2 separate regions of the Homo sapiens genome follow, and region 1 is linked to region 2. A link means that fine-mapping ties the variant in region 2 to the expression of a gene that starts in the linked region. Tissue or cell type: whole blood. Region 2 holds a variant in brackets; the other region holds the start of a gene. All regions are shown on one strand. Distances are between the middles of the regions.

Region 1 (8,104 bases), 170 kb after region 2:
GTTGGGTGTGGAATTCTGATACTTGGTACAAATAAACAACTCTTTGAATATGGCCAGTATGTGAGGAAGCTGTTGCTGATGGGTTAAGCTTGCTGAACCTGGCTGTGATCATGATGCACGTTCACAAGAGTGAATGTTGTTATAATGACTTGTATGGAGAAGTGGGACATTATACACATTTGTATATTTTACATGATGGTTTGATTTGTTCAAAGTTAGTATGTGACATTTAGCTAGAGAATTCTGCAGCTGATACTTGCTCACATAAAAATAGGTATAGCTTTATGTTGTATGGTTTCCATAATCCCTCCCGAGTGTATAAAGCAAGGTGATATGTGTGATTCCTTCTTCCATGAGACTGAAGAATGCTCGTGTGATGTGGCTTGGTCGTGTGAGGCCTTGGCCTATTTGGATTCCTAAAGGTCATCTGCTTGAACTATGGCCGAGTTGTTTCTGGTGAATGGAATCCTAAATTAGTGTACCCTTTTTGAAAAGTGGCTTCTCATATATACTGTGAGCCTTAAAACATTCATGCCCTTTGGCCTGGTGATCTATTTCTAGGCATCTATCCAAAGGAAGTAATGGGAAGTGTGTGCAGTAAAGACTTTGCCCAGAGTTATTTGTAGTTGCTAAAGACAGGAAGCAACTTAAATAACTAACAGTGTAATAATATGCAGCCAGGAAAACAATGTTCATGAAGGTCTTTTGCTACAACACTAATTCAGAAAAAAGCAGAGAACCAATAGCTACAGGGGCTCAGCAACCATACTTTTGAGTCAGACAGCCTGGGTTTGAATCTTGATTCTGCCACATACTAGCTATGTAACTTGGGCAAGTCACCTGAAGTCTTAGAACCCTAGAAAAATGCAACCCTAGAAAAATGGGATTGATAGTAATAACACCTCAGAGGGACTCCTGAGGATTAAAGGATATAATGAATATAAAATTTAACACCATGCAAAGTATACTTATTAGGCACCCAATAAATGCTGGCTCTCTATGGATTGTATAATTTCGAGGCATAAAAACAGATGGAAAGGAAATATGCCAGTATATTAACAGTGTGGGATGGGAGTGGTAGGATCATGGGTGATTGATTTGTTCTTTGCATACTTTTCAACTTCCCAATTTTTAGGCAATGAACATGAATTACTTTTATACTAAAAGAGTACATTATAATGATGTAATACAATAAGATATACATTTTAAAAGTTTTAAAGTTTTACCACAAAGAAAAGGTACTTCCCCGCCCTTTTCCCCCTTCTCTTCCAGGGGAGGAGATGGGGCCAGCATCCACCAACTCCCATCAGTAGGAGAGGGGAGAGTTGCTGGCTTCTGGGTTCTTTCCTCGCAGAGGCTCACACATGCACAGCCTGGGCCTCTGGGAGTGTCCGGGTTGGAGGGATCCTCACCATCTGTTGATGGTGTTGTGTGGGGAGTTGGAGCAGTTGGGGGAGCTGGAACAGATGATCTTAGTAGTTACTCCCATCTCTGAGAGTCTAGATTTCAAGACACGCTGATGTTTGTCGTTTTCTCCCCATGTCTCGGTTGATCTGAACCAACCACTCCATAAAATTCTAAGGTAGGAAAGACTCATCTACTAGCTTCCCACCCTAAAGCCCCTCCCAGAAAAATACCTGTAGTAATGCCTATAGTGCTGGGTGTAAACGTTAAGGGTGATTGGCAAAAAAGACATAGATCAGGAGTACGACCGGGAAGTTGGCTTAGTTGCAGCCGTTTTATTTAAGGAGTATAATTCATATTCGGAATGGAATCTCCAGCAAATGTAGTCTTTTAATATGACAAACAGTTAAGTACCTTCCCATGTTAGACACATGCCTGGAATGAGAGTGAGAGGGACATAAAATATAAAGGGGTGTGTGTCTGTGCCTGGGTTCATGACCAAACCTCGACATTTGCCCTCTATGATCTAATTTCCTTCATTGACAACCAGGGTGCCCTGTGTGCCAGCAAGTGGCTCTGCCAGCTGTATTTTACAGACAGAGAATCCCAAGCACCAAAATAACAAAGTTGATTCCCCCATCCAGACCAGAGGGGTCGTTTCCAGTCCTGTGTCCTGACCACTGTCTCTCATCATGACCCCTGGTGTTCACCTCCAGATCCAAAGTGTCGTCGCCAAGCCCCCAAAATAAAGGAATGACAAACAGCCCTCCCAGGCCCTCCTCCCCACAGAGAGGTCATCGTATGCTAATGAAGTCCGAGGAGGCAGCGGCGCAGCGCGGGAGAGCGCGCCCACGGGTTCACAGCGCTCCCGGGCACCACTGCGGCGCAGCCACAGATCGCTTCGCGCTGCAGCAGACGCTCCCGCCGCGGGGGGCGACTGGGGGAGGGGTCTCGACCGCCACCCTGAGTTCCGCAGCTCATCCCTCCCATCTGGGAGGTGGTTCTAGCTCTAGTCCCAAGCTTTCCACTGCAGTGATGGTGGGGATGGGGGCAGCACGTCAAATCACCTGTAGGGCTTTTTAGAACTCCACAGCCCCCTCCCCTAATTCTATTCCACTAGTTCAAACGAAGAAAATCTCAGACTAGGCAAGGGGAGGTGGACCGGTGGAGTCTGCGAAAGCACCACAGGTGACTCCGGGTACGCACTCCTCAGGACACAAGCACACACACGGACACATCTTGTGACTCTGAGACTACACAGATCAACCTCAGATTCGACCCTTCCCTCCTTTATTCTCTGAGGTGTCCGTGTTCGCTTCAGCTTCCCTTTAAGTCGCCCTGCGCAGGGGCTTTGTGGAGTGCCCCCAAAGTCCTAGAACCCCGCGGGACGGTCGGAGGCTTTGGCGGCCAGACATTAGGAAAAGCATCTCCTGCTTCTCGGACTGCCTGGAGCGCGAACTGGATATCAAGGAGCCAAGGTTAAGTCCAGAAGAAGAAGGAAATCCGACCAGTTGCTTTAGCAAACTGCCTGGAGCAAGGCCGCCTCCCACCCGCACAGCTTTGAGGCTTGAGGGGGCCTCTCAGTCGCAGAGAGAGCCGAGCCCCACCCTGTGCGTTCCCCAAGCCTGCACCCCTCGAGCGGGGCATCCCTTCCTGCAGGGCTTTGTGGCAGGTGGAACTGTCGGGGTGGGCGCCGTGGCTTTGGCTGCAGCCCCTTCCCTGGCCGCGGGACCGGCTCCCGCTTTGCCCTCCTTTACCAAGTTGCTGCACCGGGTGCTCCCTGAGCCGGGGACCCCCTCCGCCGCGCCGGCCGCCGTCTTACCTCACCAGGCAACACTTGGTTGCGCGGTGGCCCGGGGCGCTCCTTCTTCGCGGTTTATTCCCTTACTTGGGAGGAAAGAGGAACCGAGAGACAGAAGGGGGACCGAAGCTGGCCTCTGGGCGTCTTCCCGCCTGCGCAGCCCTCTCGGGGGAGGGGGATGCAGCCCCAGTGGGTGCCGCGGAGACCAGGCTGCCAGGCTGTGGTTGGTAGCGCCGGGGTCTTCACCCTGTGCTCGGAGTTCAGCAGCTCCAAAGCTGTCTATCTCCGTGGCCCGCTACTACGGCACTGCGGCTCTGTGCCCTGCCCCTCGCAGCCTGGCAAGTCCAGCTGCCACTCTCACTGCGGAGCCCTGCCCCCGGGCGCAGAGCCCGCCCCCGCCACACACACCGGCGCGCGCGCGTACACACACGGCACACACAGACACGCGCTTCCACACATGCACACGCGTGCGCACACACGAATGTGGATCCGCTCGATGGGAACCTGACCCCCTTTGGTGCAACTAGGGCGCGGGCATCATTAGGACGCTTTTTACTGACAGGGCTTCGGTTTGGGAGGAGGAGTTACAGGCTTAGGAGTGTGGAGAGGATGCAACAGTGGTGGGTACCAGAGGGCCCCTGACCCCGGAGGCAAAGGACAACTGTTTGACAAATAAATACCGACTGGGCGTTTCCTTTTCTCAACTCTGGTCAAGGCTACCGTAATATCCCGACCAAATCGAAGAAAAAATAAAAATACAAAATCAACAAGTTCTCTTTGTTTCCCAGGAACTCAGTATCTCTAGGATCCAAATCACTAGCCCTGTCCAGAGGGTCATTTCTGACAACCTTGACTTCGGTGGCAGTGGATTGGTGGCAGTTCAACTCGAAAAGGTTTTCCCCTCGTAGCCTGGTGGAGACTGGCACAGCCTGCCTGAGCTGGACTCTGTTGGATGGGTCGGGTCTCTGGGTGTGTTTAATTCCCATTCTCCTTTGCTTTTAGGTGACCTTGGACTGTATTCCTGCAGAATAAATAGATCTCTTCTTTTTTTAAAATGTAGAAGAGCACAGAAAAGACGCTGGGGTGAGGGGTCGGGGGGAATAGGGGAGCTACATTAGCCAAGGCACTATGACTTGTTGCTTCTCTTTCCATGACGTGCATGTCCACGTGAGGGGGTGATGGTGGTGGTGACACTATTTCAGGCATGTCACACAGCAAGATGACTGCTGTCCATTTCACACCACATTTAGAGTCATTAGGAGTTTAGACTGTCATCTTTAAAATATGTGGAGTTTACTCATTTCCACAGCCGAGAATTCTTTTCTGCCAGTGGGCAGTGAAGGTCCCCGGGCCAGCACTGCAGCCAAGAAAAGCTTTCCGCAGAGTGTGGAGGCGCCGAGGGGCTCTGGGTGTCTGTGCATTTGGGGAAGAAGCCTCAAACACGAATGTCAAACAGCCCTGAGGACCCTGTTGGGTGGTGTCCATACTAGGCTATCTGCAGGCAGGCTGGTGAGACAGATGAGAAACAGAGCTGAGAGATCTCCTTAAGATTCCACACAGTGATGAAGACAGAGCTGATACCAGAACCCCGTGTTTGCGACTCCTCTTATCCTCTGGGTCTTATCCATTCTATCACCCTGGGTGGCTTCTCAAAGTTTCCTTCAGCTAGGCTGAAATAATCTTGGTGAGGGTGCCTTCAAAGTTCTTCCTTGTCCTTTCTTTTTTTCCTCTTCAGTCACTGACTCATTCATTTTACAGCTATTTATTAAACTCCTACTCTGTCTTCAGGTGCTTCCCCGTAACTCCAGTCCTGGGCCTTACTTGGGAGGAAAGAAGAACTGAGAGACAGAAAGGGCTTAGAACTGTCCTCATCCCTGGAAGAGAGGAGCCCTGAGCACAGGTTTCTGGTATATATTTTCACTCTGCTAGGTTGCATGGATGTGGAAGACACAATCCTTGCTTTTTTTGACTGCATGCTCAATGGAGGAAAATGCACATACATGTCACAAGAAAAACATTCTGGCTGTCTATTCTTGACTCCTTCTAAAGAAGGCTAAACTGAAGGAGACCCTGTGTTTGGCTGAGCATCATAATGGACTTGGGGTACATGTTTGCAAATAGGTGTTAGGACAACATTGAGTTGCTCTGCCTATTAGGACAGGAAGGAAATAAATTGAATGGAACAAATGAAGAAGACATGCAGAGACTGAGTGTGGAGCCTTAGCTTCGTTGAGAGCACATTGGGGAAGGGTAACGAGAGGGGAGGAGCTCTGAGGACAGGGTTGCCAAGCAACTTGCCTGAGAACAGGCAACAGGGTTGCCAAGTTGTCCAGGGATTTGGACAGGGGAGATGCTTGCAAAGATTGGTAAGTAGTTTGCTGTGGGGTGGGCTATGAAAGCCCCCGGTCCTATGAAAGAAATCATTTGTAAAGTCAATATTGTTCATCGGTTTGCTTGCAAATGGATTCCTTTAGGATCAGGATGGAGCCAAATGATGCATCTGAGTTGCTGCAGAAGGAGTTCAGAGAAGGCTGTGTGGACTGAGTTACATGCTAATAACATGGAGGAAAAGGGTGGTAGTAGAGGCTGAAGCAATGTGGAAGGCAAAGAGGGATGGGGCGGGAAGAAGCACCAAGAACAATTAGTGCTAATGGAGGCATCATGGAGGAGGTAGGGTTTGCGATCGGATTTTAAAGGGGAATAGAGATCTCACTTAAAGATCAACAGGACAAGGGCAATCTAGGCTGGGAGAAAGCAAAAGCAGAGACGTAGGACAATTCATGGTGAGTTCTGGGTCTTCCCAGCACAAGAAAAGAAGGCTGGGACAGTATTGTGGGAGTCTCCAAATGCTCTTCTGGGAGCATAGACTTGGGTTCCACAGTGAGGAGCTATGGCAGGTGTGGATTTTTTGTTGTTTGTTTTTGATGGGAAATGAGCTGGGAAGCAAGCTGGGAAGTATCTGATGCCAGCTTTCCCAAGGTAGGCCTTCCCCATCAGAATGGAGCACTGTGGGGAGGGAGTCCTTGTTGCTGCTCTCACGAAGAGCCAGAGCCCAGGTGGCTTATGTGGCTTGCTGCAGAGGGCACCCAGCTAAGGGGCTGAAATCCAACTCATGCCCCACTTGCCCAGCCACACAACCTGTTAGGGTTATGTCTGCCTGGAGGGAGGGATGCCTTTTCTCTAATTTGCATGGGCTGACAGAGGCCCTGCAACTGAGCTCTTTATTTGAAAAGGCTGAAGCTACGGTGAAACAAGTGAGGATTTATTGGGCATTTGCTGTATGTGCAAACATAAGGTAAAGCAGAAAGAGTCTTGAGGTCAGGACTATCTGTGAGTCTGAGCATGTCTCTGCTCTGTGGTGACACCCTGAGACTTACTGTAGGGTACAGAGGAGGAAGCTTAGTGCCTCTCCTCAAAGATTTTGCAATCCATGTCAGTTATAAAACAAACGCTCCACTGGTTAAGAAACAGTGAACGACAGTATGGAATCAAGTGCCAAATTGCACAGGGCAGATTCTCAGGGCTTGAGAAAGGAGACCTCCTCTGGGCTGAAAGAGTCAAGGCAGGCTTCATGGAGGAGGAGGGCTGGGTTTGGCAGTGGAGCATGTGTATGTTGGTTCTCAGCCAGAGAAAAGACCTGCGAACAAAAAGCCAGAGGAAACGAAGCTGGGGGCTTCTAAGCATGGATTTTTAGCCGCCACAGCCACCCTAATGCCATTCCCAATTGTAGCCCAAGCGCTGTGATGAGTCACCCTTGTTTCTGAGAGACGGGGCATTTTTGGATGTTTAACTGGTTCAACACTTTACATTCCCTGAGACTTCAATGTTGGCAGCTCACACTCACCATGTTGCTCTGGGAACACATCATCCAAGCCAGCAGCTGATGCCTGATCTCCACTGCCAAGGCAAAGCGAGGGCTGAGTCAGGTACCTGTGTCTGGAAATTTTTAGTCCCACTGTCTCTGACAAGCTGAGCGAACAGCACTTGACAGTTGGAGCACAGCTGAGTTCAGGGTCACCAACCGCAAGGTGGGCCGGGGGGGTTCTGCTCGCCTTCTTAGGCCTCACTTTTCCCATGTACAGAACACAAAGGATTATACCAGATTATCTCCAAGCTGTCTTCCACCTAATATTTTATGATCTCATAATTAATGGAATCTTTCCATGTTATCAAGCAATGACAGGATGGGAACAGATACTAGCCAAGTCCGAACCTTAACTTTCCTCTTGGTTTTGACTGTGAAGGCTGTGGTGGAGTGAGACTGTGGGTTGGAAACAGGAGAACCAGGAGCTCCTGGTCACAGTTTTGCCATGAATGGGATTTGGGATCCAGCCCTGGGAATGTAGGCAGGAGATTCCCTCATTTTAGTTTTCTTAGAAAATAAGGAGGCTGGAAATGGTCCCTACAACCCTTTCTGGCACTGATACTCTGTTAAGTACTAGCAACTGAACAACTTTTAAGTACCGCCCCCTTGCCTGGGTGGGGCCCTCCACAAGGCAAGCTGGGAAAATTCTCACAATATCAACTGATAAGCTTGAAGGAAAGCACAAAGGAGAAGCCATGGGGTTCAGAATAATAAATAGATAATTTAGAATTAGATGGAGTCAAAAGAGCTAATCTGAGTCTCTAAGCTCCAATTTCCTCTTCTGCAAAGTGGGGATAGTAATACATGCATCTCAAGGTAATGATTAAATGAAGAAGCTTATTTGAAAGTGTTTTAGAAGTGCTATGCAAAAATGTAAAATACAGTTATTGAAGATAGTCTGTTCCCTTAAGGTAGTCTATTTTTTAAAGCCTAGTTATTATACTACTTGCTAATGTGTCTGCTTCCTAAGAAACAGCAATTCAGGTCAGCAACTCTTTATACACCACATTAAAATATAGTAATATTTTAACATG
Region 2 (8,104 bases):
CTGCTGGTATGGTGTTTCTGCCAGCGCTTTTACACCTGGCTTTCTCCTCCAGCTCACCTGTCCATTGAGGACCTGTGAGGACCCGTGAGCCCACAGGGGAATCAGCTGCCAGGAGCTTTGATTGAATCTCTCCATTTGGATCACTGGTGGAAAATGGCTACTTTTGGGGCTGGGGTAGAGGTGGTTTTAAGGACATTCTCAGAAAGCTGTGTTTGTATTCTGGTGAGTTAAAAGTGGAAGGCCCAGCTGGTGGCCTCTAAAGCATACTACCCAGTTGTTCCAGACAGAAAGAATAGTTGGTTCATGGGAGCAGCCTGCTGTGTTGGAGGAACCAGAGTGGAGGAGGCAGAGTGAGCGATGGAGAGAGTGGCAGAAGAGGAGGTCTGGGAGGTAATGAGAGGCCAAAACATACGGGGCCCTCTAGGCCACGTGATCTTTGGCTTTTTCTCCAAGCCACTGCAGGATTTTGAGAAGAGGAGTGTCATAACCTGACTGCTCTGATGTGGTGGTGAGAACAGGCTACCTAGGGCAGTGAGATAGAAGCAAGGAACCCAGTGAGGAAGCTTTGCAGTAATCCAGGGGACAGAGGATGGTGGCTCAGATCAAGATGGCAGGAATGCAGGTGGTGAGACGTGGTTGAATCCTGGATGTTTTTTAAAAGTAGCTAACAGATTTTCTGATGGACTGGCTGTGAGCCGTGAGATAAAAAGGGGAGTCAAGGATGATGCCAAGCGTTTTGGCTCTTGTGATGGGAAGGCTGGAGTTACCAATGGAGAGAAATAAGGCTGTGAGTGGAGAAGGTTTGGGGGAGGGACAGCAGAGCTCTGCATTGGACATACCAAGTTTGAGGTGTCTGCTAAACACATAAGGGAAGTATGACACAGGCTGCTGGACATAGGAGCCTGGAGCTCAGGGAAAGCTGGAGACAGGCTGGAGGCATCATGAGTAAGCACATGGTATTTAAATAAAGTCTTATGACTGGATGGGGTGATCAAGGGCTTAAGTACAGACAGTGAAGAGAAGAGGGTCAAGGACCCTGCCTGGGGATCCTCCAGCATCAAGAGGTCAGAGAGAAATGAGACCGAGAAGGAGTGACAAGTGAGCGGGGAGGAAAACCATGAGCAAATCAAGTCCTAGAAGCCAAGTGGACCAAGCGTTTCCAGGAAGAGGGAGTGATCAGCTGGGTCACATGCCACTGACAGCTGTGGCAAGATGAGGGTTAGGAACTGACTATTGGATTTAGCTATTGGAGAACCCTGGTAACCTTGACATTGGCAGCATTTGACTCTGAACCTCATGGAGCCCCACAGCTTGACAACTGACTGTCATTGAGGACACCCTTATTGTGAATTTTTGTCTTCTGGATTAAGTTGTAAACTTTGCAACATCGGATGACGAGTCAGCATATCCGCAGAGCATGGAGTCCTTGCTGGGCTGTGGGGCCTTACGAGGCCTGCTGACATCCACCTGAGGGCACCTACTACTGGGCATTGACCTAAAACAATTATCCTCATTCCTGGCTTACCTTGAACGCAGAATTTCAGTTCTTTGGGGTCAGTGACACCCTTCCTGCTTTCCCGGATCACAGCCCGGTTCTTCTTGTTTTCTCCCCAGAGATTGGTGCCTCCGTACATGCTGGGAATGTTGAGAATGGCAATGCCTTCCAGGAAGATGTTGCTCAGGTCCACCCCAACCCCATCACACTGGAGGACGGAGAGAAAAGGCCATCTGTTAGTGTCCTCAGTGTGTCACAACCCAAGGTGCTCTGTGTGTGTGCGTGCGTGTGTGTGTGTGTACTCTCTTAAAGGATGTGACAGGTCCTCAGCCACCACCCTGCCACTGTCAGAAGAGAAATCATGGGCAAAGTCGCTCAGACTTAATGCTTTGACTGCTGTGGTGAGATGACAGATCCAGTCCTGGTCAGCTCCGGGGAATACAGTACAGGCTCCAGGGTCATCTTTAGGTCTAGAAGTGCTTTAGGGCTGGTTCTTAAGTCAATTGTCAAACTGTTCTCCAGTCTAATCTCATTATCATCAATCTTGCCCCTTCCTAACCATTAGAAGATTTAGTGGAACTGAATTCAGAACCTAACAAATGACAGAAAATTCAGAACATAACAAATGACAGAAAATTTTCATATATATATATATTTTTTTGAGATGGAGTCTTGCTCTGTCACCCAGGCTGGAGTGCAGTGGCACAATCTCGGCTCACTGCAACCTCCACTTTCCGGTTTCAAGCGATTCTCCTGCCTCAGCCTCCCGAGTAGCTGGGATTACAGGCACCTGCCACCATGCCTGGCTAGTTTTTGTATTTTTAGTAGAGACGGGGTTTCACTACGTTGGCCAGGATGGTCTCGATCTCCTGACCTGTTGATCCGCCCGCCTCAGCCTCCCAAAGTGCTGGGATTACAGGAGTGAGCCACCACGCCTGGCCAGAAAATTTTCATTTTGCCCCCTCCTATTTTATCTCTCTGTGAGAAGCACAAGACTTTAAGCTTTGGAAGGCTTTCAGAATCTGCCTGTCTCCTGTATCTGTATCATAAATGCAATTTTGGCATATGTGTTTGCTGAAGGAGCAGAGTTTCTTTATCCAATCTCCACAACTTGCAGTCCCCACCAGGTACAAAAAGCCAGAAGGCTTGAATTTTCATCTCACATGTCTATAAAGTCAGCCCACTTTGGCATCGTGCTTACCAACACAGCAAGAAATATCAGCTCTGATCCTTGTTCCTCAGGATAGTAGGTAGTTTATTTCACTTACAGAAGCAAACACTGGACCCAGAGACTTGAGCTAAGTTATCCAAGCTTGCACAGCTAATAAATAACAGAGCAGGGATTCAAAGTTGGGGGATTTGAGTACAAAGTACATGGTCTTTATGTTGTTTATTGGGAGAAAGAAAAAATCAAAGGCATACAATAAAAACCCACTATCTCTGAGGTTACGTACAAACCCAAACTTCCAGAGACTTATCAACAGAGCAGGACTAGAAGACTTGTTGCCATTCATAGTGACTCACCTCCTGATTTCTTTGCAGTTCTTACATTATGTTATCTTGTTTCCCCAACTACAAGATGGCATACAGTGAGCAACTCTGGTAACTGCGAACTCATTTTTTCACTGGGAAGTTCTGATAATTTGAGAGGTCTCTTTA[T/C]GTTGATCTGGATTCTCTCTCACTCTTGTTTCCACCAGTTGGTCCTGTTCTCCCTTCTGAACCCATACAGAATGACCCTCCTTCCTCCTCCATAGGCCACCCCCTAGATAGATGATGATGATGATGAAGATCACCATTGTGCACATGTATTCAGCACTGCCATCTACCACACACAATTTTATACACATCTCATTTATTATCTTCCTAATAATCCTATAAGTTAGTTACTATGACTATCCTCTTTTTACACTGGGGAAACTGAGGCACAGAGGAGGTTAAGTAACTTGCCCAAAGTTCACAACTTACAAGTGGAAGTACACAGATTTAAGGGCAGGTAGTCAGAGCCCAAGTTTTTTATTTCTCCTCCCTCTCACACTACTACCAGGTTGTGCCACCTCTGGACTGTCAACTCTCTTCATCTTCTCCCATGAGACTTGGTTTTCAGATCTTTTCCCATCCCGGCTTCCCTGTTTTGCACACACTCTAGTTTGTTACCCTGCTATTTGGCAAGACCCCCAACATTGAAAACTACATCAACGACGGGATCTAATGGGGGCAGGTGGCTACCACACCAGTACTTCTTGTGGCTGAAATTTTATGATACTATCATGCCCCAGAAATGAGATGACGTGCAAAGCTCATGTAAGAGTTCAGCACGTTATCCATTATCATTATCCTTATCCTTATTATCCAATTGATAAAGATTGCACTGGCCATTTTGTTAGTGGCTAGATGACAACATCACTTCAGCTTAAATGGGTGGTCATCTTCATTGCCCAGATCATCTCATGATCTATTTTTCATCCAGTTCTTCGCCATTCTGAACCTGTGTAGATTTTAAAAAATAACATAGACATAAAACTTTACATTTATGTTAATTAATTTCATCTGGCTCTCAGCCCGTGTTTCCTCTAGTCTACCCAGCTTACTTCCAATCTTCATTCTGTGACCTTTTGTCATCGCGTTCCCATCATTTGGGGATTAAGTCATTAATATGTGCGCATAAAAGGAAAAAACAGTGACCGAGCACTCTCCTTGGTCAGTTTAACACCAAACATTATGCGTTAACATCCTTTGGGGTATGGCTGCTCTATCGGAGCTGCATCTTCTGGACTGGACTGTCACCCAGCCTACTTTTTGTTATTAGACAGATGATGGAATTTAGAGATGAGAGGCACATAAGGGAAGATGCCTCTCATCTTTCATGCCTCATCTTTCATAAATGAGCCCCAGTGAGGTTAAGAAACTTCTCTGTGGTCATCTGACTTATTAGTGGTGGAGCTAGATATGTATCCAGGTCTCCAGACCTCAATCCTGCGTTCTTTCCATGAAAACATAAAACATTGTGCCGAGATCAAACAGCATTTCCTAAGTGACCACCCTACAACCTCTATTAGAAAAGCAATAAGATAACTCAACTAAGTCACCAATATCTGTGTGCAAAGCCTAAATACTTTGTTAATAATCTATTCTAGAATCTTGCCAGGGATCAGAATAAAGTGTATCAGTCTGTGGTTTCCAAAATGTACCCTATTCTTATTTTTTGAACACTGGAGCCATATTTGTCTGCCTCTTATTGGCTAGAACCTACTCTGTTTTCTGGATTTGTCAAAGTGGCCCCTGAATGACACCTACAGGCTTGTCCAGCAACTTGGATTCAAATGTGTGTGTGTGTTTCAAAGCCAGTTAGTTCTCCATTGATTTACCTTGGGTTCTAGTATCCACCTTTGGCATCTTTTCTTCCATTTTTAGTTTAAGGCCACTCTCTTTGGAAAAGATGAAAACTCTTCCAGAATGGCACAGTCCTGTTGAGCTATGCTTTCTATGTTCTTTTTCACTTCAAACGTTGTCTAGCATTCAGCTGGGCCTTCAGTTAGCCTGAAGCCAGGCTCACAGGTCTGAATTGCTTTTGTGTATTCCTACCTGGTTGCATGCCCAGGCTCTGCCTTTGCGTGTATGTGTACAGTTTCCTGAAAGCATAGGCTCAACCAACACTCTCTGTTGCTGTCACATTGATTGAAAAACAAAAACTGACTCCTTTTTCTTTTCTTTTCAGTGTGATTCATGACTTCTTAGAAACTTATTTTGGAATGTCTTCTACCCTCCTATCCTTCATACACATATTCCTAATTAGAGATTTAGGCTAGAGTCCCATTGGATCACACTTTCTTTTTTCTTCCTTTATTTATTTTTTGAGACAGAGTTTCGCTCTTGTCGCCCAGGCTGGAGTGCGGTAGTGTGATCTTGGCTCACTGCAACCTCTGCCTCCCGGGTTCAAGTCATTCTCCTGCCTTGGACTCCTGAAGTAGCTGGGATTACAGGTGCCTGTCACCACGCCCAGCTAATTTTTTTTCTATTTTTAGTTGAGATGGGGTTTTACCATGTTGGCCAGCCGGGTCTTGAACTGACCTCAGGTGATCCACCTGCCTTGACCTCCGGAAGTGCTGGGATCACAGGGGTGAGCCACCGGGCCTGGCCCACATTTTCTTTTATCCTTATCACCCTCTAGATGAAGCAGCCACTTCCCCATCTTGGCTGTAGTTGCTTCTACATCATCTCAATTTATTCACTGTTGGTCAAAACATCCCTTTCCCTTCTGAGCAGTAATAAGAATAATATTAGCAACTCATGCTTGGTGAGAGCTTTCTAGGGCACTGTGCTGGGATTCACCCATAGTATCTCTTGCGATCTTCACATGAACATGATGAGGGAGGCAGCATTGCTACCCCCAACTGACAGGGCCTCTTAGGGGTTAAGATGCTTGCTCAAGGCTCCACAGCTTCCTACTCTACAAGATGGCAGAGCCAGGATGCAAACCTAGGAAGGCAGATGCCAGATCCTACGCTGGAGATGAGTCAGTGAGGCAAATCGGGATTTTTGCTGATGCTAGGCTTATAGCAAAATTAAACTTCCAGCTGTTTGAATAATTGAGATCTCCCACTACTGCTCTATCTTATAGAGTGCTTAGAGCAATGCCTGGCACATCAATGTTGGATATTAATATTATTATATCTTGCCTCCGCACCAGGTTTGTTTTTTAAAAAAGTACATCACCAGCACAGTCCTTGACAAATAGTATTCCACAAAGTCACCTTTCTTCCGTACTACAGTTTTAACTGTACCCTGTCCCCTCCATCTCTATCCATAGCCAGCTAAGTGTGTTTGCTATTAACTTGGTAAACGTTTACCTCTTCCTGGAAGAGCAGGCAATCCTCACTCTGCTTTCTAGGTTGTCCCCTTCCCCTATTACCGCAGTGGGTCCCATGTAGATAGGGCAAGTAGAGGAGATGGGAGAAGCCTGGGGTCTGCTGGACGCTGATGTCCTCCCTCCCTCTTGGAATGCACCTACTTGGAAAGTGAGAGCCAATGTAGTGTCTTGGAAAGAACGTGCCTGCCTGGGCTTGAAGGCAGAGAGACATGGGTTTAAATCTTGGCTCTGTCACTTGCCAGCGGTGTGATTCCAGGTTGTTTCCTTACCCCTCTGAGGTTTAATTTGTCATCTGTAAAATGGAGGATAGGGGAATAACATCTGCCTTAAGGGGTGGGTTGATGGGTGTCTGGAATGCAGTAGCACTGTGTAACTGTCTGCGTTATCATCACAGGTTCCCCAACCTCTGTGCCATGAGGCATTTATCTTCCTGAATTCACTCCCCCTACCTGAGGCTTTGCTGGAGGCATCTTAACGGCCTCTTGGCCCGACCCAGGCTGGTAAGAGCCTTGGCAAGCGCACGCCTGCGTGCCCATTCTCCAGAGTTCCTGGCCTCGCGATCGTGCACTGATTTCCTTCAGAACCCCAGGCCCGCTCTGGACGTGGAAGGCAGCCGTGCCGTCTGGGAAAGTGGAGCCGAGCCCGGGACGCTGTCGGCCTAAATGGAACGCCGGCCCCGGGGCCCGCTCCCCGGCGGGTTCCCGAGCTAAATCCTCCAACTGTTCCATGACGTCATCGGGCCCCCTCCCCCTGCTCCGGCCCGCGCGGCCCCAGCGTGGCGCTAAGGAGTGTGGCGGTCCCCGCGCGCACCGTGGGCCATCCCTAACCCAGGACCTGGCTAGCAGGCTGCCCTCCGAGCCGAGGCTGCGCTGGGCGGAACCAGGGATTTATAGCCCGGAGTGGGGCTGAAACAGAGCTCCTGGCCCGAGCAGAGAGCGTGCACACGCATGAAATCGTGCTCCTGGGTGCGCCGGCGGCCAGGTGCCCGATGTCGGTCTTGGAAGCAGCGCCGGAGTCCGTCTGAACCCAGGCCCGGGAGGCCAGAGGCTGCCGGCCACGTTCAACTGTGTCCCCCTTGGGAAGACAATCCCCCCAGTTCTGGTTTCTTCCTGAGCCACGGGTGGTTGGTTGGTTTGGTGGAAGGCAGGTGCACAGGTAACAGAGACAAGGTTAGGAGGCAAAGCACATTTATGTGCAAATGAGACGCGCTAGGGAACTTGTAATCCTCTGCACCCCCGCCCTTGATGTCTCGATCCCTACAATCACAGAATTCTAGGCAGAGGCCGCCGACTTCTCCGCCCTCGCCAAGAGGGACCCGGAGCACCGAAGCTTCCCAGCCGGTGCCGGCGTTTCCGCGCCCTCCTTCTCTCCTGCGCCGTGACCTCAAAAGGGCGGCGGGCGGGGGCCCCTCCACTCCAGCCCTGTCGATCCTATTTCTGAAGGGCCTTAGGGAAGGAGATTCCACAATTTATTTGATGACCTGTTTCAGTTTTTAGCAACTAGGAAATTCCCCCTTCTTCTAACCTCGATTCACCGTGCCACAGATTTGGTTTGGACGCAGACGGTTCTGTTTATAGGCCTGCCACTCGGCTTTGTCTGCTCTCAGGAATGACCTCCACCAGGCCAGATCGGAGGTGGAAGCCAGGACTCGGTAGCTCCGGGAGGCATGTGTCCCCTTTCTGCTGGGAATTTTCTCTTTCTTGGGTACCCTGTCACTGAGTTATTGTCCCTCCCATCTTCCA

The links. PIP is the estimated chance that this variant, and not a neighbour inherited with it, causes the effect.
Region 1: it holds the start of DGKG, and the variant in region 2 is fine-mapped to the expression of DGKG in whole blood (TOPMed, PIP above 0.99).

What each region holds. Positions count from the first base shown.
Region 1 is chr3:186,358,720-186,366,823 of GRCh38, forward strand. It overlaps DGKG (diacylglycerol kinase gamma), which reads right to left and starts at 3,515. Exons shown (of 25, transcript NM_001346.3): 1 at 3,227-3,515. RefSeq lists an enhancer at 2,283-2,800 and a silencer at 3,585-3,674.
Region 2 is chr3:186,186,677-186,194,780 of GRCh38, forward strand. It overlaps DGKG (diacylglycerol kinase gamma), which reads right to left. Exons shown (of 25, transcript NM_001346.3): 22 at 1,526-1,703. Among named protein-coding and RNA genes, the nearest start is that of ETV5, 82 kb to the left of the region's middle. RefSeq lists an enhancer at 7,434-8,104. The variant T/C (reference allele first, on the strand shown) is at 3,155.